Linked DNA regions of Homo sapiens. The protein of the gene in region 4 purifies or fractionates together with the protein of the main gene of each other region. This does not show direct contact. Each region holds a gene or a part of one and is shown on either strand. Other genes may lie near its edges. The genes, in order: IGF2BP2, HDLBP, HNRNPR, PINK1, MYO1B, GARS1 and MCM6.

Evidence for each region.
Region 1: the proteins of PINK1 (region 4) and IGF2BP2 purify together in Homo sapiens (affinity purification with mass spectrometry, with the first as the bait; one large-scale study listed by BioGRID). This does not show direct contact.
Region 2: the proteins of PINK1 (region 4) and HDLBP purify together in Homo sapiens (affinity purification with mass spectrometry; 2 studies listed by BioGRID and IntAct, with this or other methods). This does not show direct contact.
Region 3: the proteins of PINK1 (region 4) and HNRNPR purify together in Homo sapiens (affinity purification with mass spectrometry, with the first as the bait; one large-scale study listed by BioGRID). This does not show direct contact.
Region 5: the proteins of PINK1 (region 4) and MYO1B purify together in Homo sapiens (affinity purification with mass spectrometry, with the first as the bait; one large-scale study listed by BioGRID). This does not show direct contact.
Region 6: the proteins of PINK1 (region 4) and GARS1 purify together in Homo sapiens (affinity purification with mass spectrometry, with the first as the bait; one large-scale study listed by BioGRID). This does not show direct contact.
Region 7: the proteins of PINK1 (region 4) and MCM6 purify together in Homo sapiens (affinity purification with mass spectrometry, with the first as the bait; one large-scale study listed by BioGRID). This does not show direct contact.

What each region holds. Positions count from the first base shown.
Region 1 is NC_000003.12:185,689,043-185,692,542, forward strand, and holds part of IGF2BP2 (insulin-like growth factor 2 mRNA-binding protein 2), read right to left. Parts: intron 586-3,500; coding exon 313-585; intron 179-312; exon of another isoform or gene 66-178; intron 1-65.
Region 2 is NC_000002.12:241,235,673-241,239,172, reverse strand, and holds part of HDLBP (vigilin), read left to right. Parts: intron 1-385; coding exon 386-524; intron 525-2,403; coding exon 2,404-2,558; intron 2,559-3,500. UniProt on the Homo sapiens protein: Appears to play a role in cell sterol metabolism. It may function to protect cells from over-accumulation of cholesterol.
Region 3 is NC_000001.11:23,313,285-23,316,784, reverse strand, and holds part of HNRNPR (heterogeneous nuclear ribonucleoprotein R), read left to right. Parts: intron 1-3,082; coding exon 3,083-3,232; intron 3,233-3,500. UniProt on the Homo sapiens protein: Component of ribonucleosomes, which are complexes of at least 20 other different heterogeneous nuclear ribonucleoproteins (hnRNP). hnRNP play an important role in processing of precursor mRNA in the nucleus.
Region 4 is NC_000001.11:20,639,958-20,643,457, reverse strand, and holds part of PINK1 (serine/threonine-protein kinase PINK1, mitochondrial precursor), read right to left. Parts: coding exon 3,466-3,500; intron 802-3,465; exon of another isoform or gene 340-801; intron 1-339. UniProt on the Homo sapiens protein: Serine/threonine-protein kinase which acts as a sensor of mitochondrial damage and protects against mitochondrial dysfunction during cellular stress.
Region 5 is NC_000002.12:191,409,404-191,412,903, reverse strand, and holds part of MYO1B (unconventional myosin-Ib), read right to left. Parts: intron 1,839-3,500; coding exon 1,732-1,838; intron 1-1,731. UniProt on the Homo sapiens protein: Motor protein that may participate in process critical to neuronal development and function such as cell migration, neurite outgrowth and vesicular transport.
Region 6 is NC_000007.14:30,597,878-30,601,377, reverse strand, and holds part of GARS1 (glycine--tRNA ligase isoform 1 precursor), read right to left. Parts: intron 2,583-3,500; coding exon 2,481-2,582; intron 1,432-2,480; coding exon 1,329-1,431; intron 320-1,328; coding exon 178-319; intron 1-177. UniProt on the Homo sapiens protein: Catalyzes the ATP-dependent ligation of glycine to the 3'-end of its cognate tRNA, via the formation of an aminoacyl-adenylate intermediate (Gly-AMP).
Region 7 is NC_000002.12:135,866,444-135,869,943, forward strand, and holds part of MCM6 (DNA replication licensing factor MCM6), read right to left. Parts: intron 2,418-3,500; coding exon 2,168-2,417; intron 286-2,167; coding exon 120-285; intron 1-119. UniProt on the Homo sapiens protein: Acts as a component of the MCM2-7 complex (MCM complex) which is the replicative helicase essential for 'once per cell cycle' DNA replication initiation and elongation in eukaryotic cells.

The DNA.
Region 1 (3,500 bases), on a different chromosome or scaffold from region 4:
CCCGCAGAGCTCCAAACCTCTGCTTTTGTAGAAATCAATGCATCCATAAGCATTAGTTCGCTTACAGGAACAGTCCTGGCTGTGAGGTTATCAGTACCCTCTTTATGAACTTTTAGCCTCTCAGCATGAAAGCTTGTCACAGCCCCCAGCTTGATGTTAGTCTGTTAGTAGTCCTGTTGAAAGAAGCCACTGTCTCTTACAGCACAGCCCCCCACTGCTGATGTAAGCAATTGTGACCTAAGAGTGGCTGAGACCCACCAGCACGCAGGGGACCCCTCAGAAGGAAGCAAAGGAAGCCCCACAGGCACGTACCGGGACTGGGTCTGCTTAGTGATGTTCTTTATGGTCAAGCCCTCCTTTCCGATGATGGCACCAACAAACTGGGTGGGGACCAGGATCCGCAGCGGGAAATCAATCTGTCTGGCCTGAGAAGTGCCCCCAGGGGCGTGGCCTTGCTCCCGGGAAGAGTGGTCCCCACGCTGGGCTCGCTGAGGGGGCGAAGGGGAGCTCACCTCTTCATCCGGGATGTAGGAAATCTTGAAGGAGTAGTTCTCAAACTGATGCCCGCTTAGCTTCTCCATGGCTCTGAAATGCAGCAGGACAGGGGAGCTTCGTCAGAAACCAACATCAAGAAAGACCCTCCCGGCCGGGCGCGGTGGCTCACGCCTGTAATCCCAGCACTTTGGGAGGCCGAGGCGGGTGGATCACGAGGTCAGGAGATCGAGACCATCCCGGCTAAAACGGTGAAACCCCGTCTCTACTAAAAATACAAAAAATTAGCCGGGCGTAGTGGCGGGCGCCTGTAGTCCCAGCTACTTGGGAGGCTGAGGCAGGAGAATGGCGTGAACCCGGGAGGCGGAGCTTGCAGTGAGCCGAGATCCTGCCACTGCACTCCAGCCTGGGCGACAGAGCGAGACTCCGTCTCAAAAAAAAAAAAAAAAAGAAAGACCCTCCCGCAAGACTGGTTCATTCACTCCCATTTAATAGGTGCCTATATGGTGCCATGCCAGGCACTGAACATACAGTGGTGAGCAAGACAGACACCATCTCTGCTCCCTCAGGGCTTACGGTTAACAGTTAAACAAGTAATCACAACGCATCAGCCTGGTCAGGCTTCATATCCAACATTACAGCCTGGTTTCTCCACCACTCAAGGCCATTTCCCCCTTATCAAAAACTCTTATAAATATCAGTATAAAATTATGACTCATTTTTTTCTCATTTTAATCATCATACATATTATTGAAAATTCAGAAATATGTAAGTGCAAATAAAATCCTAATCCACTATCTTTACTGTCTTTCTTAAATATAAACATATTATTGCTTATAAAAATGGGTTAATATTGTACATACTATGTTCTAACCTTTAAAAAAACAGTTAATATTCTAAAACATTTTTCAATGTCACTAAGTACCTTTCAGTATAATTTACACATGACTCAACTGCAGTATCAGTATAATTTTTAATGACTGTTTAACATTCTATTGATTTACCATAGTTTTTGCAACTGATCCTTTATAGTTAGATATCTGTTGTATCCAACCTTTTACAGTTACACACACTGTCACCATTGGCATCTTTGCAACTACAACTTTGCACACAGGACAAATTCCTAGTAGAATTGTTAACTATTGCCCAGTGGGCCCCTGGAATGGTTTCAACATTTATGATCCCATAGCAGTTTAGGAGAGAGCATTTGTGTCCTTGAATCTTCAAATGCACAGAGCGCTGTTATTTAAAGATATTTATCAATTTGATAGGGGATAAATGATATACCACTATTATATTCTTAAAATGACACACGAAATACACTATCCTTTTCACATATTTTTAGTAGCATTAACCCAATTTTACTAGGTTAATGTCTAGGACTTGTAAATTTATTACAAAGCAGCACCTTTTGAATTTAATAAAAGCAATAGAGTAATATCATGTAGAGAGGTCCACCCAAGCAGCAGCTAGATAAGGGCTGTGGAGTTGAGTTGTTGGTGTATCTCCACTTACAAATGTGTACAAGGTAAAGTTAACACTAAATGAACTATTACCTTTTTCTTTTTTTTTATTTTTTTCGAGACAGAGTTTCGCCCTTATTGACCAGGCTGGAGTGCAATGGCGCGATCTCAGCTCACTGCAACCTCTGCCTCCCAAGTTCAAGTGATTCTCTTGCCTCAGCCTCCCGAGTAGCTGGGATTACAGGCATGCGCCACCACGCCTGGCTAATTTTGTATTTTTAGTAGAGATGGGGTTTCTCCATGTTGGTCAGGCTGGTCTCGATCTCCCAGCCTCAGGTGATCTGCCCACCTCGGCCTCCCAAAGGGCTGGGATTACAGGCATGAGCCACCACGCCTGGCCTGAACCATTATCTTTTTCAATGCAAAATTAACATTTTGAAAACTAGCAGTATGAAAATGGGTTAAATATCTTTGTATGTTGAAAAAGAACACTATAATCCTGGGATATATAGCCAAGGTTATGCCACACCCATAAAGCAAGACCAAATGTGACCATAATTCTAGTTATAATGACCTGACAGGCACTTTAAGGACCTCCTACAAAAAAGGAACTTGTTTTTGTTGTTCTTTTAAAGATGGGGGTCTCATTATTTTGCCCAGGCTGGTCTCAAACTCCTGGCTTCAAGTAATCCTCACCCTCCCAAGTAGCTGGGATTATAAGCATGTGCCACCACATCCGGCTGTTGTTGTTTTGAGAGGCAGGGTCTTGCTCTGTTGCCCAGGCTGGATGGTAGTGGTGCAATCACAGCTTACTGCAGCCTTACCATCCTGGGCTCAAGTGATCCTCCTGCCTCAGCCTCCCAAGTAGCTGGAACTACAGGTGCAAGCCACCATTCCCAGCTAATTTTTAAATTGTTTTTTTGTAGAGACTGGGTCTCCCTATGTTGTCCAGGTTGGTCTCAAACTCCTGGGCTCAAGCAATCCTCCGGCCTTGCCCAAAATGCTGGGATTACAGGCATGAGCCACCATGCCTGGCCTCATTGTTTTTTAAGAGACTTGATCTCATGTCCATTAACAGCTAAGCTCAAAATTAACCATCCCTGAAGTAATGAATGGGCACTGGAAAGAGGATGGGGATTGGAGAAAAGAACCCAAACCAGGTGCTATTGAGTAACCACTCTCAGACAATTCTCTCGGCTGCTGCTCTCACTGAGGTGGATTCCCTCCTAATGTTACACACACAAAATTGATGTTTTGGTATAGGCTTGTGCTGCCTCTTCACAGTGCATGGAGGAAGCTCTAGGTAAAAGTGGTCCCAAGTGTTTGGCAAAGCAGAGTCTAGGAGACACAGTGTCACAGGTATGGTGCCCTCTATTCCCGATCATGTCAAGACACAGCTCCCATCTTGGTTTTGATGCCAAGGCTCAACATTTTTCAAGTCTCTACACAATCCACAAATATCCCGGTGTGAATGTCCTGGAGCTCCACTGACATGTCAAAGATGGCAGGAACACCCTGGAGCTCTACCAATATGTCAAAGGTGGC
Region 2 (3,500 bases), on a different chromosome or scaffold from region 4:
TTAGAAGCAGTCTTTAGAGAGTGTCCCCTCCAGGCCACTCCCCTGCCAGGGCCTTGGATTCCCTTTCCCTAATAATCAAGTCTGATGCCTCCTCATGGAGTCAGAGGCTACCCCAGGAGGTCCCACTCCTTTGGCTGAATTGGCCACCCTCCAGGGATGGCACCTGGCCTTCTGGGACACATTTCAGAGGAGGCCCACCCCCTTAGACCTGTCCTGCTACCTCCCTCCTCCCTGCGCCTGGAGCCCTGGACTCGGGAGAAGGGGAGCATCTGTGCCAAGTGGCTGTAGAGGACAGGGAGGAAGGTGGTGTGAAGAGTGCTGTAAAACTTGCCCTAAGGAATTTAATCTTTGCTCTTTTCTTTTTTCTTTGTGTACCTCCCTCCAGGAAGCTCAGGTGACATTAGAATGTGCTATACCCCAGAAATTCCATCGATCTGTCATGGGCCCCAAAGGTTCCAGAATCCAGCAGATTACTCGGGATTTCAGTGTTCAAATTAAATTCCCAGACAGAGAGGAGAACGCAGGTGGGTCCCCCATTAGCCCTGCTCTGCTTGTTAATAGTGGCGCCTCCCATGTGAGAGGCGGGGCTGTCGCACATACTGGTGAGGCTCTTTCCTGTCTCTGCTGGAAAACCATCTATGTATTCTGGGGGCTTCCAGAGGTTCAGGGTCACTCCCTGGCCTTTAAAAGATGGACCACGTCAGTTACTGACAGAGTGACCAGGTGACCTTCATAGGTCCTAGAGACACACAAGGTAGCCAGTCCCAAGGCGATGAGGAGCGTGCAGCCTCATCCTCGGGTGTCCCGAGTTCAGTCCCAGTGATTCTCATGACATCGTTTGGATCGCATGAGCCCCGTCGTAGAGCTTCCTCCTCCACATCTCCCATCACTGTGGGGTGTCCCCTGTGAGGCAGGCAGCTGCAGCCTCTGGCTGGCCAGAGGGCACCATCCAAGTGGCCGGCAGTTCTAGGAGAGCATTCAGTTCCCCGTACCATGCTTGCCCCCAGCTCTGCTCATGCACCTGGTGGTGGGGAGGCGACCTGTGGGATGCGGGTCGGTTGCCTCTCTCTCACTTGCTCTGCATTTGTGAAACAAAAGGTATGCCCTCCACTCTGTGTTATCAGATGCCCGCCCTCCACTCTGTGTTATCAGTCTTGGTTGAGCTGTTTGGGCGGCAGGTGGCCCTGCAGCCTGCTGAGTGCACATAGTGTCATCTCTCTGGGCATCCAGGAAGCATGTCACACACAGCCATTCAAGCCCCTTTGTTTTCCTGAGAATACAGGGTGTTTTGAGTAGGAAACTAATAAACTCATACTGCACTCTGTCTATGTTTTACACTTCAGTGGTTATTTAAAACTTTGATTTTGATAGAATTTCACAGAATAGTATAAAGACACATCCTGTGGCACCAGTTTCTTTTCTCAACTTCTCCCCTTTTACACACGTTTTTTTTCTGAATGTCATTTTTAGACATGTCCCTTTATTCATGGTGGGTATTTTCTTAGAACAAGGACATTCTCTTACATAATTCTAGCACATTTATCGGAATCGGATTTAACATTATATAACAGTAGTATCTAATATGTTGTCGGTATTCAAATTTGCCAGTTTTTCTCCTTCAGAAACACCTACTTCCCCATCCTAGGATCACCCTTGATTTCAGGCAGGCGTCTGTCTGGTCTCCTGCTCATTTATTTACATCACACACCTCCTGGGTTCTGTCTTAGTGATAATTATTGTTGTGTCTGTTTTGTGACACTTATTGTTGTGGTGTCTATTTTGGTACACACGCGGTGTCCCAGTGTGGCCTGTAGGAGCCCCTCCAGCTGTCTTCTGTGTCCTGTTCACACGCCTCTTCACTTCTGGGGCTCTCGCTTTCTGGCATAAGGAGCTGGCACAGGTTTACCTTGGCCTTGCCCTTTCTGTCTCCCCTAGACCTCTCACCCCCCTTCCCACTGCCTCTCCTGGGTGGGGCTGCGTGCTGGCCGCCTTCCCTGATGAGCCCTGCCTCACAGTCAAGCCTCACTTGTGCAGTGGGTCTGCCCTGTGTTCCTCCCATGAACTAACTCATCTGATCTCACTGAAGCCTCTGCTGTAGTTAGTTGCTGTTAGCTTCATCTTCAAGGTGAAGAAGGGAGACACAGAGCTCACGGCCTCCCGGCAAAGCCTTCATTGCCGCCCCCCCCCCCCCCCCCAAGGTCTGGGAGCCCTCTTTGAGGCTGCTGTGGGGACGTCCTATCTGCTCTCCCTGACCAGACCAAGACCTCCTGAAGGACAGGAGTGGTTTTCCCTCCCTTTTACCACCCAGCACCCAGCAGGTGCCTCACAGACATATGCATTCTGAACAAGGTGTGGGGTCTCTTCCAGCAGCTGTCAGCTGTCCCTTTTCCCCTTTCTCTCTAGTTCACAGTACAGAGCCAGTTGTCCAGGAGAATGGGGACGAAGCTGGGGAGGGGAGAGAGGCTAAAGATTGTGACCCCGGCTCTCCAAGGAGGTGTGACATCATCATCATCTCTGGCCGGAAAGAAAAGTGTGAGGCTGCCAAGGAAGCTCTGGAGGTATGTGTCCATGTGCCCCCCTCCACCCCCCGCCAAGGCCCAGTCAGCAGGCACCTGGGGAGACGCGTGGCCTGGATGGGATGGACGGTTGCCCAAGCGGCAGTGGCAGTGGAGGTAGCCCTCTTGCTCCTACCGTGTGCGCACGGGCTGTGCTTCTCGGCTGGACACAGAGTTTGGGGAGGCCACTTCCCTTCACCAAGGCTCGGGGTTCTATAGCCCCTTTCTGGGACAGCTGCATGGGATCCGGCCTCTCAGGCCCACGGTGGGTGCGGGGGCTGTGGAAGGGTCTCAGCTGCAGGGGGATGAATGTGACCTCCAGTTGCAACGTCTCCCCCCGCGTGAGTGGGGTTATCAGGCCTAGCTCACCTTGTGTGCAGTCAGTGTCGAGTGCCACCTGCGTACTGGATGCTGCTCTCAGTGCTGCGGTGCCACAGCACACAAAAATAGTTCTCACGTTGCCGTGGAGAGACAAGCAGTCAACGCAGATATATCCTGTGGCAAGTGATGGTAAATGCTGTGGCAAGAAAGCAGGTTCTGGAGGTGAAGGGCGGTGGGGGAGACAGGGCAGGGAAGGTGAGCAGCGGTCTGAGAGTCCCTTGTGGCACCTCGTGGGCATTAGCCAAAGCCGTCCTGATCCCAAGGGACAGGGCAGGGAAGGTGAGTAGTGGTCCGAGAGTCCCTTGTGGCACCTCATGGGCATCGGTCAAAGCCGTCATGACCCCGAGGATGTGCCAGGAGTCAGGGCCTCTCCTCCTACGTGGGCCTGAAGGGGCTGCTGTAATTCAGGAGGGTAGGCTTGGGATGAAGGGTCTGGAATTTCTGTCTGCCAGCATTAGCCTAATGCAAATCTTTTCCTATTCTTTTCTATTGAGTTAAAGGTCCTGGTGGCATTGTCGGGTGGGGCACATTGCTGTTGTCATAGGGCTGTTTGCCTTGTGTTTC
Region 3 (3,500 bases), 2.7 Mb from region 4:
TGATTTTAATTCCTATTGTTTCTTCTCCTAATACAACTATGACTTTGGGTAAACTACTGAACATGAATGTCATCTATTTTATTGAGCCTGGATCAATCTCTAAGATCCACCACAACTTTGAATCTACCTGTAGTAACTAAGTATAGCCTGTATTACTTTTTCTGTAAAAATATTTTAAAATAGTATTATAGATGTATTATAATAGAGGAATAAAATATTATAAAAGAGGAATAAAATCCCATGAAAACCAAAAGTATAGCTTGTAATTTGCTTACCAGCCACTTCTCACATAACCTTTAGTAACTGCTCAGATGGAAGTTCATCCTAATCTTTTTTTAGGGTTAGAAAACTTCAAGATTTCATTCTGGTAACTCCTTTTTCCTAGATCTAAAACAGGTTTCAGAATGAAAAGGAGGTCTCTATAAACTTAGGATTAAATATTATGGAGCCCTTTATTGTTTCTTTTTTTTAAAAGATGGGGTCTCATGTTGCCCAGGCTGGAGTGCAGTAGCTGCCCACATGTGCAGTCATAGCACACTGCAGCCTTGAACTCCTGGGCTTAAGCGTCCCTCCTGCTTCAGCCTCCCGGGTGCTTGCAACCCCATCCAGCTCCTTTATTGTTTCCTAATTGAAAAGAAAAGTTTATCCATTTGAGTAAAGCTTCTGTTATTCACACTATCAATTTACAATTCACTGAAGATTTTTTTTGCCAAGTTGGGTCAGTTTTACAATGTACCATAACCTAAAAGCCTAAATATATGTCTCTTAAAGGGACCCTTTTTCCTGTTGAACATTTTAAACACAATTTCAGTAAGTAATTTTCACATAGTATGTTATCGTTTCATCATAGAAAAGTCCATGTTGAATTTTTTTTAAAAAGCAACTAAACCAGTGGGAGTCTGTGTAACATAGAGGCTGGACCTTAGTATGACAAATTGAGAATAATAAAGGGGATGGAGCGTTTGTGGAAAATGTTAGTTTTTTTCCTCCTTAAATTAGTATCTTCTTATTAGATAGCCCTTTATCTGAAGCAACAATTTGTTCAATATGTTAGTTTTTTATTTGGATAGGTACTATGTTTTCTTAGTTCAAAAGTTATATAGAAAAGTATAGACAAAGAAATTTCCTTTCTACCCCTATCCCTGTGTCTACCAAATCCCCTTTGTCTCCTATAAGGCATCCAGTTTTAATAGTTGCTGGTTTCCTTTTAGTATTTCCTTCGGCAAATATGGATATACTTCCTTAATTCTTAGATGAGTGGTAGTAATGTTGGTAGCCTACCATATCCACTGATCTACCTTTTGTTTATTCACCATCCTGTTTCATCAGCTCTGAGGAAATACATCATTACTATATGTACTACTAAATAGTTAAAAAACACTGCCAACTAAACTATGGCACAGTACTTGCTTATCACATTGACTGTAAGTTGTCCTATCCTACAACTCATAGAGCTCCTCTTCATTTTTTGGGTTTTTGTTTTTTTTTTTTTTTTTTTTTTTTTTGAGACGGAGCCTTGCTCTGTCACCCAGGCTGGAGTGCAGTGGTGTAATCTTGGCTCACTGCAGCCTCTGCCTCCCGGGTTCAAGTGATTCTCCTGCCTCAGCTTCCCGAGTAGCTGGGGTTATAGGTGCCTCCTACCACGCCCGGCTAATTTTTGTATTTTTAGTAGAGACAGGGTTTCACCATGCTGGCCAGGCTGGTCTTGAACTCCCAACCTCAGGTGATCTGCCCACCTCGGCCTCCCAAAGTGCTGGGATTACAGGCGTGAGCCACCGCGCCCAGCCCTCTTCTTCATTTTTTATGACTACATAGTAGTCTATTCTGTGGAGGTACTATAGTGTATTTAACCAGCTGGATATTGTTTCTAATCTTTTGCTCTTACAGTGCTGGAAGGAATAAGCTTATGTTAGTTGATACAAGTGGAGATATATCTGTAGGATAGATTCTTAGGGGTAGAATTGTGGGCCAAAGGGTAGATATATCTGTAATTGTTAAGATACTGCCATATTCCTTTCTGTAGGAGATACACTATTTTACATTCCTACCAGCAAAATACAAGAGAATTATTTTCCTCATTCTTGACAAAATAGTGTATAATCAAACTTTTGAATTTTGCCAGCCTGATAACAAATGTCTCAGTGCCATTAATGATTAATGATTTGCTTCTCTTACTATGAATGGTTTGAACTTTAAATATATTTTAAGAGCCATATGTGTTTCTGTGTATGAACCATGTATTCAGGAATTTTGCCTATTTTTCTATTCAGTTGTTGAGCTTTTTGTTATTTTCTGGTGCTCTGATATAAAAGAGAGATTAGCTGTTTGTGATACATGTTGCAAATTTTTCATCCATATTTATTGTCTTTGCTTATAGTATTTTTTTGCCATATAGAAGTCATTTATTTTTAGTAGTTGAGTATAACATTCTTATGGCTCCTAGATTTTAAGTCATAAGGTCATCCCCACTCCAGTGTTATATAAAGGAATCATTCTTGTTCTAAAATTTCACAGTCCTCCCTCCACCCTTTTATTATTTAAATTTTCAATCTATTTGGAGTTTATCCTTGTGTATAGTGTAAGGCATGGACCAGCTTTTCTCCTTTTTTTCTAATTTAACACTACCTGATTTAATGATTTAAGCATTATAGTTTGTTTATATTTGGTAGGGCCAGCCTCTAAATTTCACTCTTTTTTTTCCTGGTTATTCTTGCTTATTTATTTTTTCATATGAACTTTTGAAAGTTACTCAGTTTTAGAGGAAAGAAACAGAAAAACTTGTTTTGAAAGGGACTTTTTGTTGATTAACTTGGTAATAATAATTATGTGTTGGTTCCTTGAAGGTTCTACTCAGTGTTAGGTGCTTTAATGACAACATAGGAGAAGGCAGGAACCAATAATTTTTGTAAATTGGTGACTGATATCAGTGTCATTTTCCTAGCAATTTCTCTTACTACCTGTAACAACACTTTTAGCACTTAATGTTTTAGAGGAGAAAAGCTATGCTATGAAGACAGGAAGAAACACTTTTCAGGTAAAATTAAGTAGCCAATGACGGTTTTGTTTATTTGTTGCTTACTAGGTAAAAGTTTTGTTTGTGAGAAACTTGGCTACTACGGTGACAGAAGAAATATTGGAAAAGTCATTTTCTGAATTTGGAAAACTCGAAAGAGTAAAGAAGTTGAAAGATTATGCATTTGTTCATTTTGAAGACAGAGGAGCAGCTGTTAAGGTAGGAATTTTGAAATTTTGGTTCTTGATATTTGAATTTTGTTTTTGAAACTTGCCAAACACAAAGTAACTTTAAAAACTGAAACAATATTGGTTGTCAGCTTTTGCTGAACTCTTTCTATTTAATCTCTGTAAAGTGGTAATAGTATGTAACAGATAAGACTCCATATTTCAAAGCCAGGTTATTACTGAGTTTGTGATCTTAGGCAAGTTATTTTTAATCTCTGTATTGTTTTGTAAGATTCGATAGCATGATGCCTTGGAAGTAT
Region 4 (3,500 bases):
ATATGGGTGTAATAAACCTTTGTTGAATAAGTGAATAGATCCAGATGCAGCTAGTAGTGGTAGTGTCATCTGCCTGCCCTGGCTGCTCCTTATCCTGTGGGGAGCGCCCCCCGACCCCCAAACCACAGCCCTGCTGAGGCACAGTGGCTGGATTTTGGATGGGGTGGCTCTGCCAGCTGTGTGCCAGCCCTGCCCTTCAGCCAAAGCTGACTGGCCCAAGGAGTCACCTGCCCCAACGGCAGTGAACCTACAGTGACACTCGAGACCCAGATGGTTGGACGAAGGGAAGGGAGGGAAGTAGATTCTCTTTTTGGGAGTGTGAGTGAAGAAATCTGCCAGTCTGCAGTGGAGAGGAAGCCACGATACTTCACTGGGGCCATGAGGAGCCAGAGGTGAGCAGGCCAAAGGGAAGCAGGAACAGGAGATGCGAGGAAAGAACAGCATGTGGACAGTGGAACCACGTTCCTACAAGTTCAAGAATCAGTAACTGATGGAAATTCCCGTGGCTCACTCCTGTAATCCCAGCAATTTGGGAGGCTGAGGCAGGCAATTGCTTGAGCCCAGGAGTTCGAGGCCAGCCCGGGCAACATGGAGAAACTCTGTCTCTACAAAAACTACAAAAATTAGCTGGGCATGGTGGCATGTGCCTGCAGACCCAGCTACTTGGGAGGCTGAGGTGGGAGGATCACTTGAGCCCAGGGAGGTTGAGGCTGCAGTGAGCCAAGATCACGCCACTGCTCTCCAGCCTGGGCAACAGAGTAAGACCCTGTCTCAGAAAAATAAAAGAAAATTTGAGTTTGCAGAAACCACTTTCTGAAAGGCTGAAACTCCCTCTGCTTATGAGATAAAAGAACTGGCTGAAATTGGTTGGAACCAATAAGGCCAATTGCAGCTTGCACAGAACAAGTTTGCTGATGTCAAAGCCTGAATTGCCACTGCACGTTTCATACTCACTCCTCCCAAATCTGCACAGGGGACCCATGAGTTGGCATGAACAGATAACTGTGCATGTCCAAGGACTGTCCAGACTTCTCCTTTCCTTCCATCAATCACCTGCTAATCTTAGAATCCACCCCTTAAACCTCCTCTAATAAAATTACCGCCTTAAAGCTAGCACAGGGAGACAGGGTTGAATTCAACTCCTGTCTCCATATGAGTCGACTCACAATAGAAAGCTTGGCTTTTCTCAAAAATCCAGTGTGACTGCTTCTAGCACATCAGGCTAGAGCCCCCTTTGCTGCATAACAATGGTGGAGGGAAGCGAATGGGGCAGAGCCTAGACGGTGCTGGGGAGAGAGCAGGGCACCGGCCTCTCCCAGCACTGCATGGTCCCCAGGCTGTGTGGCTGCAGTCCACGTGTGCCCACGCGCTGCTCCTGCTCTTGAGTCAACCTGAGTGGCCCCTGTTCTATGCAATCAAAGGAGCCAGAGCATCGTTTCCACCCTCGGGCCCCTGGGCAAGTCATGATCACAGCCCCAGGCTGTCAGGGCCCCAGCAGGTGTCATGGGAGCTCAGGGGCAGAGGAGTATGGCTGTACTGGGGAGATACATGGTGGGGTTGCGGGTGTCTGAACTGAGACCTGAAATGTGGGAGGAGGGCAGCCCAGGTATAGCCAGCTGTACGCTCAAGAGATGGTCACAGAGAAGCCTGGCACATTCGGGGAAGGAGCTATGAAGCCAGCGTGGTGGAGTGTAGGGTGCTGATGAGAAGGGTGAGAGATAAGGCGGGAGACGTGGTGAGATGAGCAGGTTAAGCGCCTTCAATCTCTGGGCCCCAGGAGAGCAGAGGCTAGGAGGAAATGAACCCAGGGTGTTCTTGGGAAAGCTTCTCCCAAGGTGTACCAGAAGTTGAGGTAATGTACCTGCTGCCACATCTATCCGGTCATTCAACAGGTATTTACTGAGGGTATGCAGTAAACAAAGAGTGTTTACAGTACAGCTGGAGCAAAAAGGAACCAACAGAAAAAGACGTGTTATTTGAGGCCAGACAGTGAGAACTGCTAAAGGAACAAAGTCCCTGAAGAGGGACAGGGACTATGTCAGATGGGAGGTCTCAGCAGCAGACATCATGGTGCTCCGGCAGCAGGACAGCACCACGTCGGCCGGCTGCCACTCATGCCACAAAAGGAGGCATCAAGGATCATGTTAGCCCCAAAGCAGCTGACATTCAGGTGTCCACTTTCTCCAAAAAGGCCTCAGGAGAAGCAGCAGCCACTTGAGCAGCTACCTCCACCGGCCTGCAGGGACTCCCAGTCACATTGGAAACCTCCAAACCATGGAAGGGGTTTTCCACAACCACTCCCTTAATTTCATACTTTTGCCTCCCTGCTTCTGACAGAATGAAGATCTATAAACCAGCCCTCCAGTAAATCACCAAAAATGCAGCAGACCCACCTCTTCTTGGTGGGTCTACAAATGAGAGACAGGGTCTCACTCCAGGGTCGCCCAGGCTGGAGTGCAGTGGCATGATCTTGGCTCACTGCAGCCTCAACCTCCCTGGACTCAAATGATCCTCCCGCCTCAGCCTCCTGAGTAGCTGGGATCACAGGCATTTGCCCCCATGCCCGGCTAAAATTTATTTTTTGTAAAGGCGGGGTTTCACCATGTTGCCCAGGCTGCTCTTGAACTCCTGGGCTCAAGTGATCTGCCTACCTCAGCCTCCCAAAGTGCTGGGATTACAGGCATGAGCCAGGCTGTAAATATTGAGGTGGGCACAAGTATCTCCTCTGTCATAGCCTGCGCGTCAGTCCTCACCACCTGTGGTGAGGCTGGTGGTGGACATGGGCTTTTCTGAGCTGAAAGCGTAGCTGCTGTTCACTTGCTCTTCCCTCTGCTGGGAATGCCACTTCCCTACTCCTCTGCCCAAGTAATGCCAATTCATCCTTCACAAGGTGGCACAAACTGTCCCTTTGAGAAGGCTTTCTGAGCAGCCCCTCCTCTGCAGCACACGCCTCCCCTGGGCTCCCTCAGCCCAAGCATACTCGATTCTAGCACTTACACCCTGGGCTCTCTGCTGCCACACTGAGACCTCTGGGCCAACAGACCACTTTTTGTTTTTTTTAAAATCTCTTGGCACCATCAGTGCACATAACTATTAGTGAAATGAGTGTTCCCTCTGGTGGGGACAGAGTTCAGTTTATTCCGATAGGTGGCGCTCTACCCGTGCATTTCTTAGGAGGAATCTGAGAACCCCAGTCAATCATGCAACACTGTGAACTGGGCATTTTTGGGGGGCCTCCTCTCCCCTGCTCCAATGTGAATTACGCAAGTGCATCATCATTTGGGGTCAGATTACCTGCAATCTTTCCCAAGTGAAATTATCCACTAACTGAAAATCCATCACCAACATTAAGCCTTTATTATCTACTGTCATATCAGACACTGTACCAGGTGCTGAGGACATAAGTGATGGATGAAGTTGCTCTCAAAGAAGTCCCAGTCAGTCTGGCAGGCAGAGGGCACTTACCTGTAAGTGACTGCTCCATACTCCCCAGCCAAGGC
Region 5 (3,500 bases), on a different chromosome or scaffold from region 4:
CTCTAAATGGACAGAAGTAACCAAAGCAAACATTCAGAATCAGGGCAATTTTTTTTTTCCCAAACAAACTAATTTTTGTAAAAGGTTAACTGTACACTTATCACTAAGATATCAATTTCCCTAAAGACTTGTCGGGGGACTCTTTCAGGACAGGTTCATCAAAGGCACCAAGGAAAAACTGCTGCTTCAAGGAATCTATAAGCTTCATTTTGAGCTACAAAGTTCTGGCAATTTGCAAATACAAATTTAAATGCTTATGTTGTGGGTGGAGGATAAGGGAAGAAAAATCCACGTAGGTGGTCAGCGTTTCACAGCTCTCAGGATATAAAAGGCCAACTCCCATAAGAGCTGCCACTTTGCAGGGTGGTGGGAGGCTAAATTATTCCACCTCTCTCACTGCTGTGGGGTGAGTGTGCCACTATCCCTGAAAACTGATAAGACTACCCAAAAAGGACTTGGCTTGAAGTTAACTTTTTTTGGTTCCTATTCAACTGTGTTTTAAATTATAAAAATGCTAACAGGCTTTTAAATTGTTTCCTCAAAGATGTATTTTCCAGCCTGTAGTTTCTGAAGAGTCATCCACAGGAAATGTTCATTAAGAAGGTTATTCCCTAATTTAAAAATGTATAAAAAAAAAGCTGAATAAAATTAGTTGCTGAAGCAAGCATACAGACAAATTCTCCTGTTTGAATATGCTTTATATAACAGGCACTTTGGACAACTTTGGATTTAGACACTGTGTTTGACTTAAGGGAGTATGTATCACCTCAAGTAGCCACATCAGCTAACCAATGAAGTTGTACAATTTAAAATATTTAAACCCAGTGAGTCTGGCAATGTATATTCCTTTAATCCTTTAAAAGGAAGATATTTTAAATGTGTATAAAGTCACAGAGAATATAAACATAATTTACGTAATAAATGTGAATATACTCAGCATATAATACATTCTTTCTTTGGCCATTCATTGGAAGAAGCTTAAAGTTGTTACAGATTTGGCTTGAAATTGTACAATCTACTTTTTTATAAACACCAGATGAAAATGGGATTAGATTGCTGGGAGGAAGTGATGAATGCAGGAGATGTAAGACTATTGGGATAAACAGTCTTTACCAAGGACTTCACTTGCTGAACTTGGGATTGGTGTTCCTTCTTTTTCTGAGTCCACGGTGTCTAAAATAAAGGAACTGAACGTGCTGTACAGGCCACAGAAGTCATATCCGTTGAGTTAGCAGACCAAAGGGCACCACAGACCAGTGCTCAAGCAACACTCAAAAAGTACTGTCCTGGCTCGCTCTTTCATTTACCTTACAAATAAGTTTCTGACCTTGCTTGCTATGGCAGGAAGACTGGAATGGTGATTAAAGTATATTGCCAACAGAAATTTGGCTAGTCTTTGAAAACTACGGAAAAGGAACAGGAATTTACAATGCAAACGTATCTTAACAGCCTATATAATTTTTATGTTAAATGACTTCTAATTATTTAGTAAAGTGTTTGAGCTAATGCTAATGGAGTGAAACCAACAATCGTAACCTCATTTCATTAAACTGCACTATAGAAGCCATAGCTCAAATAAATGTGTTTACATCAAGCTGATTATAAAATGATTCACAGAACTAAAAATCACTCATCTAAGACTGAAATCAAACACCAGGCAAAACGGCGTACAAATATACTTGAGAAACTTTTATAATCCTGAATTTTATGGGTAAAGCAAAGCCATAATACCTAGATGGGTATAAAGCCTTCTTGTCTTTGAAGAGTTCACTGGCTTCTAGTTTCTCTTCATAAATAAGTTTCTGCTGGTCTGTGAATTGGTCCCTGTATTTTTTACACTGTGAGATATGAGAAGAAAGAAACAAAACATCATTTATATAAATAAATTATTACTCATTCTTAAATATGCTAAGACAATTTATCAGCAACAAGAATAAGGGAGAAAGTACAAAACATTCACTAAAAAAGGCCAAAAACATTTTTCCCTTGTGGGTTTTAAAAAGTTTGTCTTGGAAAACGTCAGAGTATTATTTGTATTGCAGAACCTGGAATGCTTCTTCAAAACACACCAGGGCCTAGTGGGCACGGGCCTTGCAAGTACTATTTCCTCCCACTATGTCAATCCTTGGAAATCCTCTAGTCCTGAGGCTGTCACTCTTCTAGAGAGACTCACAGTAAAAATATTGTGCATCACAATCCACTAAGCACATTTCCACACACATACAGAGAAAACTGACACAAAAGCGTCACAAAACAATACTCAATCCTTTCTATATATTGTACACTCTGCTATTTTCTATTCTATTGCATTTTATTGAAAAACGCTGGTAGTAATCCACTAAATTGATTTCATGACCACAAATATGCTATGACAGTTTGAAAACCACTGCTCCAAATCCCCCCACTACCATTTTACAATAGGGATGAGGGACCTGAGATATCCCCTTTCACTCCATCCCTGAAGCTGCAATGAGAGGAGACAGTGGCCAGAGGAGCAGGGCCAGGTTTTTTAGATGAGCATTCCTAGAAATTCAGTTACAGGTGTGGTCAAGTGCTACTGAAATAATTGCATGAAGAAGTGTGAGCATTGCTGCTGACCCTTTCCATGGAAAGGCTCCCTTCAGGAATAAACAGCCCTCATCTCCCACCTCCAATCCAATGGAGGGATGGGTGAGATTGCAAAGCCAGGGGAGGGCAGAGGTGGTGCAGATCCCCAGCAATGGGAGCTCCCTGTCATTATTTCTGAAAACAGTTTCTGGGTTAGACTCAAGAAAGGAGACAAGCCATTAAGAGGTTCATGAACCTCGCCAAATTTGCTGTTAGAGAACAGAACTCAGAATCTAGTTCCTTATGTTGTATGGTACCACTTATCAAGCTAATCAGCAATAATGTCACTCTATACATAGATGATTCTAACAAAAAAACAAGCCCACCGTGCTGGGCAGGAAAGTTTCCTGGAGGATGTGTGTACTGAGCATTCATTTACTAAATACATGCCCTTCCATCTCATGATTTTATTACATCTGATAACTGCATATATTTAACATTCCACATATCAACTGACTAGGTTATCGAAGTAAGGTCAACATCTATACAAGTGCCCCACGTGTTCCATGCTGGGCAACATCTAAATTACATGCCATGTCCTCTTATACAAAATAAGAGAGCTAAAATAAAAGGCAGTATAAAACAGATTTCCAGCTTCCCTGTAATTTAGATAGAGAATGTGTTACTATCTTTAGGGACAGGAAAAAGCCTTTTTTCCCACCCATCAAAGTGTGTGTGTTCACATGTATTATCTGATTATCTGTTCTGTACATCTGATAAAGTAAACTCTTCAATTTGCAGGATTTAACTATGTTGCCTGAAGGTGTCCAAATTTTATGATTTCTCTGTCCTACAGTATTCCTTTAGACAAAGAGAGAAACAAATGAACAAAAAACTGAACTACTTGAGAGCAGCTGGAACCTGGAATGGAAAGAAAATGCAGCCCTGTGCTC
Region 6 (3,500 bases), on a different chromosome or scaffold from region 4:
ACATAGCTATCTGTGAGCAGAAGGTATACATTTCTTTGCTTTTCCATATTTTTCAGATTTTCTACATGAAATGAGTAGTTCTTTATAATCAGGAAGTTATTTAGATAAGTATATTAAATAATTTAATAAGTTATTTTATTTAAAGTAGGATACCCCCACTCCAAAGTAAGATCTCACTTTAAAACTGGCTCAGGGGTGAGCATGGTGCAATCGATCTCCAGGATCTGTTCCTCTTGGATAAAGTGCTGCCTCCAGGTCTGAATAATATTGTTCTTCAAAGCACAGCCAACTGGCCCAAAGTCATACAGACCACTAACACCTATAGAATATGAGAGGAAAACACATACTTTACCTTGTTACTCTGAACAAATGAAGGCAAGGAGACATGAGAAACTGATACCTATACTCCCTAAAAGTGTATTCAAGTCAACAATGCAAATCCCTCAATACTGAAGAACCTTACTTTCAGCTAGCTGATGGAAGTAAAATAAAAAAGCTCTTACGCCATTTACTAATTCTATATTTGTAATTTCAAGTAGGACTAGCCCAAAATCTACAACAAAAGTTCCCCCTTAGAGAACAGAATGAAAAAGCAGATTACAGTTTTCTGCCGTAAAAATTACAAAATAATTTCTCACCACATCTGATAACAATGATCTATAATTTTAGCATCCAATTCTCTAATTTTTTCCTGGGTATTTGAGGCACTATTTAACCTCAAAAGGGTAAACATTTACAGATCCACTTAGCCAAACTCAAGTCAACTTTCAGTGGCAAAGTACTATATGTCTAATGTTGTTGTAATAATCCGTTGACTATGAAAAATATAGTTTTACATTTCATCAGTGAATTGTATTTGCCTATATACCTTCATATGGCATTCACAGTGATTTATCTACATCCCTGGGAAGAATGTTTTCTCCTGGCAGATGACCATAAAGAATAATCTAAGGACTGTTTTATCACTGCCCCTGTGTGAAGGGGCATAGTATAGTTAGCCAGTACTACAATGGCCCTCTGTTACTCTTCAGTCTCCATTGCATTTTAAAAAGAGTACATGAGTACACAGACACATCAAATACATACATGGGCCTCCAACAATTCCCTACATCCTAATCAAAAAAAGTGCTGTCCAGGAATAAATGCAGTGGAGAAAAATAACAGGTATCACACCAAATGGTGACTCCAAGCAAACAAAAGCAAAACATCCATCCTCTGCTTTGTGGCCTGATACAAGTGGATACCAACAGGCAAGCCATGTTCTTGATTTAAGTATAATATTAGAGCCACTAACAACACAATAGTTCTTTTTGTCATTAATCCCTTACCTCCATAAATAGCAAAAGCTTGATCATAGAAAAACCTCCTCTTCAGGGTATCTTCCATTTTTGCTCGGTCTACAATATCATCTTTGGGCTGTAACGCCAGCTCCTGTTAGAGATTAAATAAAAAGTGAGTGAGTGGAGGGGTGGGTGGGAATCTGAACTTATATATCTGAATTTAGTTTATTCCTCACCAGAATTAAATATAAAATTTATCAAACAGACAAGATTTTGATAGGTTAAAAACAATAGAAGCCATAGGTCTTTTTTTCCCTTTGAGTAATATAAAAGATATCTTTACTTAATCATTTAGGAAAATATATGATCATTTCCAAGATTACAAGACTAAGCTTGACCAGGTGCGGTGGCTCACACCTGTAATCCCAGTACTTTGGGAGGCCGAAGTGGGTGGATCACCTGAGGTCAGGAGTTCAAGCCCAGCCTGGCCAACATGGCAAAACACTGTCTCTACTAAAAATACAAAAATTAGCTGGGCTTGGTGGTGGGCACCTGTAATCCCAGCTACTTGGGAGGCTGAGGCAGGAGAATCACTTGAACCCGGGAGGCAGAGGTTGCAGTGAGCTGAGATCGCACCATTGCACTCCAGCCTGGGCAACAGGGCGAGACTCCATCTCAAAAAAAAAACAAGACTAAGTTTACTTTGATGTAGATACTGATAAGCAATATAAAGCAATATTTGAATTGTCAGTGGATTGCTATAGCAAAATGGTTACTTTAAAACCCCAAAACAACTTAAGTTTGGTGATGGGAGATCTATTGTTTGAAAGGTCTGGGAGCAGGTATCAAATAAACAGACCTTTTCCTTAAAACAAACAAACAAACAAAAATCATTATTTTCAGGCATAAGAGAAGTCGTAAAGAAGAGCACAATCCTTTCCATGGAAATTCATATAGCGTATTGAGTCCAGCATTTGCAGGGTCAGGAAGGCTTTATTAAAAAGTTGACATTTTGAGTTGCATTTTGAAAGGATGAGGAGTCTACCAGGTAGAGGGAAAGGAGAAGGCGGCATTATGGATAAACAGATAAACCAAATGATACTTGTTCAGAAACTTTTCTAGGTCTCTCCCATCCAAAGAAATTAAAGATGAACAATCCTATACCTACTTATGTTCCTATTTTAGCATCCCAGGACTCACCTTTGCTTCCAGAACCCTCTTGCGGGCTTTGAGCTCAGCCACTGCTTTGTCTACGTCTACTTGGGGTGCTTTATCTTCTTTGAGTTTTCGCACAAGATCTCCCTAGCCAAGAAAGAGAATTTATATTCAGGATTGGTTTCAGAAGTTAAGAAATGTTAGGAATGTGTTTTTAAGCGTGCCTTTTAAAAAGTCTATGTAAGAATGATGCAATTCAGGCCAAGCGTGGTGGCTCACGCCTGTAATACCAGCACTTTGAAAGGCCCTCCTCACCATCTGAGATCAGGAGTTTCAGACCATCCTGGCCAACATGGTGATACACCATCGCTACTGAAAATACAAAAATTAGCCGGCCGTGGTGGTGGGCACCTGTAATCCCAGCCACTTGGGAGGCTGAGGCAGGAGAATCACTTGAACCCGGAAGGCGGAGGTTGCACTGAGCTAAGATCATGCTACTACACTCCAGCCTGGGTGACAAAGTGAGACTCCGTCTCAAAATGAAAAAAAAAAAAAAAAAAAAAAAGAATGATGCAATTCAAATGTTTATTATGTGAGTGATCATTATGAATCAAGGTCTCTGCCCTCTTCATTTAATAATCTAGAAGAACACACGGGCAAGTTAACAAATAACTGCTCACATGGTGAATTTTTTCCTTTGGGTATAGAGGGGTGAAAAAGGAGGAGACAAAAGCATTGATTAAAAAGTAGGAAAGAGCAAGATTTGTACTGAGAACACAGAAGAACCAATAAATTGACCACCTTCTTAAATCTCTCTCCTCTCGCTTACAAAAAAAAATAAAAACATTATTCAGTTTTCCTCCCACTTCTCTGACCATTCTTCTCAGTCACTGCTGGCTCATCTTCCTTTGCCTTTCTCTTTACAGTTGGAATTTTTTCCTTGCTAATATTTCTGAATTATTTTATTAACTTCCAACAACTTATACTAATTCCATATTTATAGTAATATGGTGGAATAGGTCATCTGAGTAAACAAACAAAATATTACCTATATAGGATGAAAAA
Region 7 (3,500 bases), on a different chromosome or scaffold from region 4:
ACTTCGTTCCTCAGCTTCTGATTGGTAGCCAAAAAGAAGACAATGAAGATGTGGGAAGCTAGATACTGTGCAGTTTAGGTAACTGAGAATTTGTTAAATTTGAGCCACAGATTACTGACCTGGTGTGCTAAGCTTGGAGACGTCAGGCACAACAATCAGTGTCCCTGTAAAGTCACACTTGTCACCAGCTTGAGCTGATTCCACAGCTTCAGCCCTTAAAATTACTTCTAAACTGCGGGGGATACTCCCTCGAGGAAGCTCAGCTTGGGTCTCTTGAATACGAACCTGTAATACAGACAAACAACCAACCAAGAATGAGAAGCAATACCTTTCAGATGCCATATAATCTAAATTAAATACCACAAATACGGACGTATTCTAAACTATCTGACCCATTAGCAGACTTTTCACATGTACCAACATTTATCCTAAAAATTATCTACTCTAAAACTCCTTTTAGTCAAATAGTTCAATTTGGCAAGAGATTACATCTATTTAAAAACTCCATGATGATTCAAGCAGCAGAGAAAAAAAAAACTTCACTTTTACTCATTAAAAAATAATTTTTTTCTTTGTTCAAAATGACTCCAAATATCTGTTCCATGCTCCATCTTCTCCTAAGCTTTAAGATAATTTTACAGAAAATTTCAAATACACCTTTTATACCCTCCACTTCAACACAACTGCTAACATTATTTACAGATACATGTTTTTTTACTATGTATTTGAACACAGTTGTGAACATCAAGAAACTTCATACCTAAATATTTTAGCATTCATCTCTAAGAATAAAGACAATCCTGTTACAATATCATTATCACAACCAAGATAATTAAACAATATTTAATTTCATAAAATTACATATCTTCTATTATCTAGTCCATCTTCAAATGTCTTGTCAAGAGTGTCCTTTATACAGTTGTGTTCCCCCCCCCAAACTAAGACCCAATCTAGATTCATACTTTATAAGATAAGACATCTCCTACCCAAAGCTGTTGGTAAAATATGTGCATCTTATAAGCTACCAGGTTAATGTAAGAAAGCCAAATAAGGAGAATGATTATCAGAGCAATATAAATAATATTAAATTCATCTGATAATAATTATTCCATACTTGAGCTGCTTCAGCTTTTCTTTCCATTTTGTATGTCCCATAAAATTAAGTCCTGCTGAAATCTGAGGGTCCCCTTCATTCTTACTACTGCCATCCATCACCTCTTGCCCAGGTAACTGAAATTGCCTATTACCCTCTGTTAAACCCATCACGGACTTATTCAGTTTGCTTTTAAAAAAAAACACACAGGCTGGGTGCAGTGGCTCACGCCTGTATCCCAGCACTTTGGGAGGCAGAGGCAGGCGGATCACGAAGTCAGGAGATCGAGACCATCCTGGTTTAACACGATGAAACCCTGTCTCTACTAAAAATACAAAAAATTAGCCGGGTGTGGTGGTGGGCACCTGTAGTCCCAGCTACTCGGGAGGCTGAGGCAGGAGAATGGCGTGAACCCAGGAGGCGGAGCTTGCAGTGAGCCGAGATCGCGCCACTGCACTCCAGCCTGGGTGACAGAGAGAGACTGTCTCAAAAAAAAACAAAAAACAAAACAAAACAAACACACACCCACACACACAAACTACCTTCCCACTATATTCCCACTGCTTATTAAGATAGGCTCAAACTCCTCAGCCTAAGATTTAGGGATCCAAGTACCTCCAGGTCTCACATCAAATCATCTCTCAGATGATCTCCAATTTGGCTCCTTTACTTCAATCATGATAATCCTCATTGCTTCCAAGCTAGCCTGTCCTATTCATGCTTTCCTTTCTATGCAGCAAATGGAAATCTTACACTAACAAGTTGCTATTTCTTTAAGTTTTCTTAACTCCAGTTCATAATGACAACCACCACCACCTAGTTACCATTTATTCTTTGACAAATACATCTTGTCAGTCTTAAGGAACTTCCAAGTTACTGAAAGTTAAAACAAATGTATATACTAACAATTATAATTTACATGAACAGTTTTGGGCTTAACTTTGTAGTCATTTTGATGATGCTTAACTTACATAAAAATTGAGTTGAACATTATCTAAATAAGCTATTGCAAGGGCCTAGAAGTGAATTATTATCATAGATGGACTCTGATCTAAACAGATGTTAAATAAATACCTTTTGAAAATCAACAAATCTTGATTTATTTGTATCCAGTAAGAATCTCCTCCTGTTGGCACAAACTGGATTTCGGCAGATGTTTGGCTGTGTGTATTTGAACTGCTGTTCTACATCCCTGATCACTGTCTGACAGTCCAAGCACAGAAAAGTTCCGCTCACAAGCTCTGGGTGAACTGGGTGAGTCCGCACCACCTGCCCACTGATGCGAGTGAGCAAACCAATTCTGGATGAGGTGAGCTCTCGAATCCTGTTTAAAGACAAATGTCCCATTAGTAAACATTCATCTCTTAACTAAGAATCTTTCCATTTTAGTGAGAGGGTATTCAAAGATAATTTATGTTTAAAAAAAAAATTCAAGAGACAAGGTATTCTTTGGACTCTCCTATAAGAATAATTTAGTCAACGTGCCCAATCCTAAATTATATGACGTATATGTATCCAGAACAAAATATATAAATGAACTAAAGGATGCCAAAAAAATGAAAATTAAAATTATAAAACAGAACGGGCTGGGCGCAGTGACTCACACCTGTAATCCCAGCACTTTGGGAGACCAAGGTGGGCGGATCATGAGGTCAAGAGATCAAGACCATCCTGGCCAACATGGCGAAACCCCACCTCTACTAAAAATACAAAAACTAGCCAGTCGTGGTGGCGGGCGCCTGTAATCCCAGCTACTCGGGGAGCCGAGGCAGGAGAATTGTTTGAACCCGGGAGGTGGAGGGTGCAGTGAGCCAAGATCGTGCCACTGCACTCTGGCCTGGGTGACAGAGCAAGACTCTGTCTCAGAAAAAAAAAAAAACAAAAACAGAATGATCCTGTTTTTGTTTTATATGCAAATACTTTTTTGCTTACCCGCAATTTCTAAAAAAAAAAGCATGTGTTACATAATAATCCTATCATGAGAAAAAATTTTGTACTCAAAGTTCAGAAACACTTCCTTTACAAACCCATTTTATGTGAAGTAATTTGGTAATTTTATAATTTCAGTAGTTTAACTTTTCAAAATATCACTTCAATTTTATCCAGTAAATTTATTCTTAAAATAACTGCCAAAGGGGTGTTTGAAAATTATGCATTTAAACCAACAAAAATTTCCAGAGATTCAGGAATTTCTAGAATTTCATATTTTCTCCCTTGATCAATTTTCTCCCAAATTTCCCTAAAAGGCGCCCTAAAATGTGATAATCCTAAAAATTTGCTTCACTCCCTTTACATCTAATCCCATCTCCATAGGAAAATACATTTCTCCAACACTAAACTTTCTGGATAAGTGGGTATAACTCCTACAAAAGTCAACCTTCTACAAAATCTGAATGCAAACCACTAT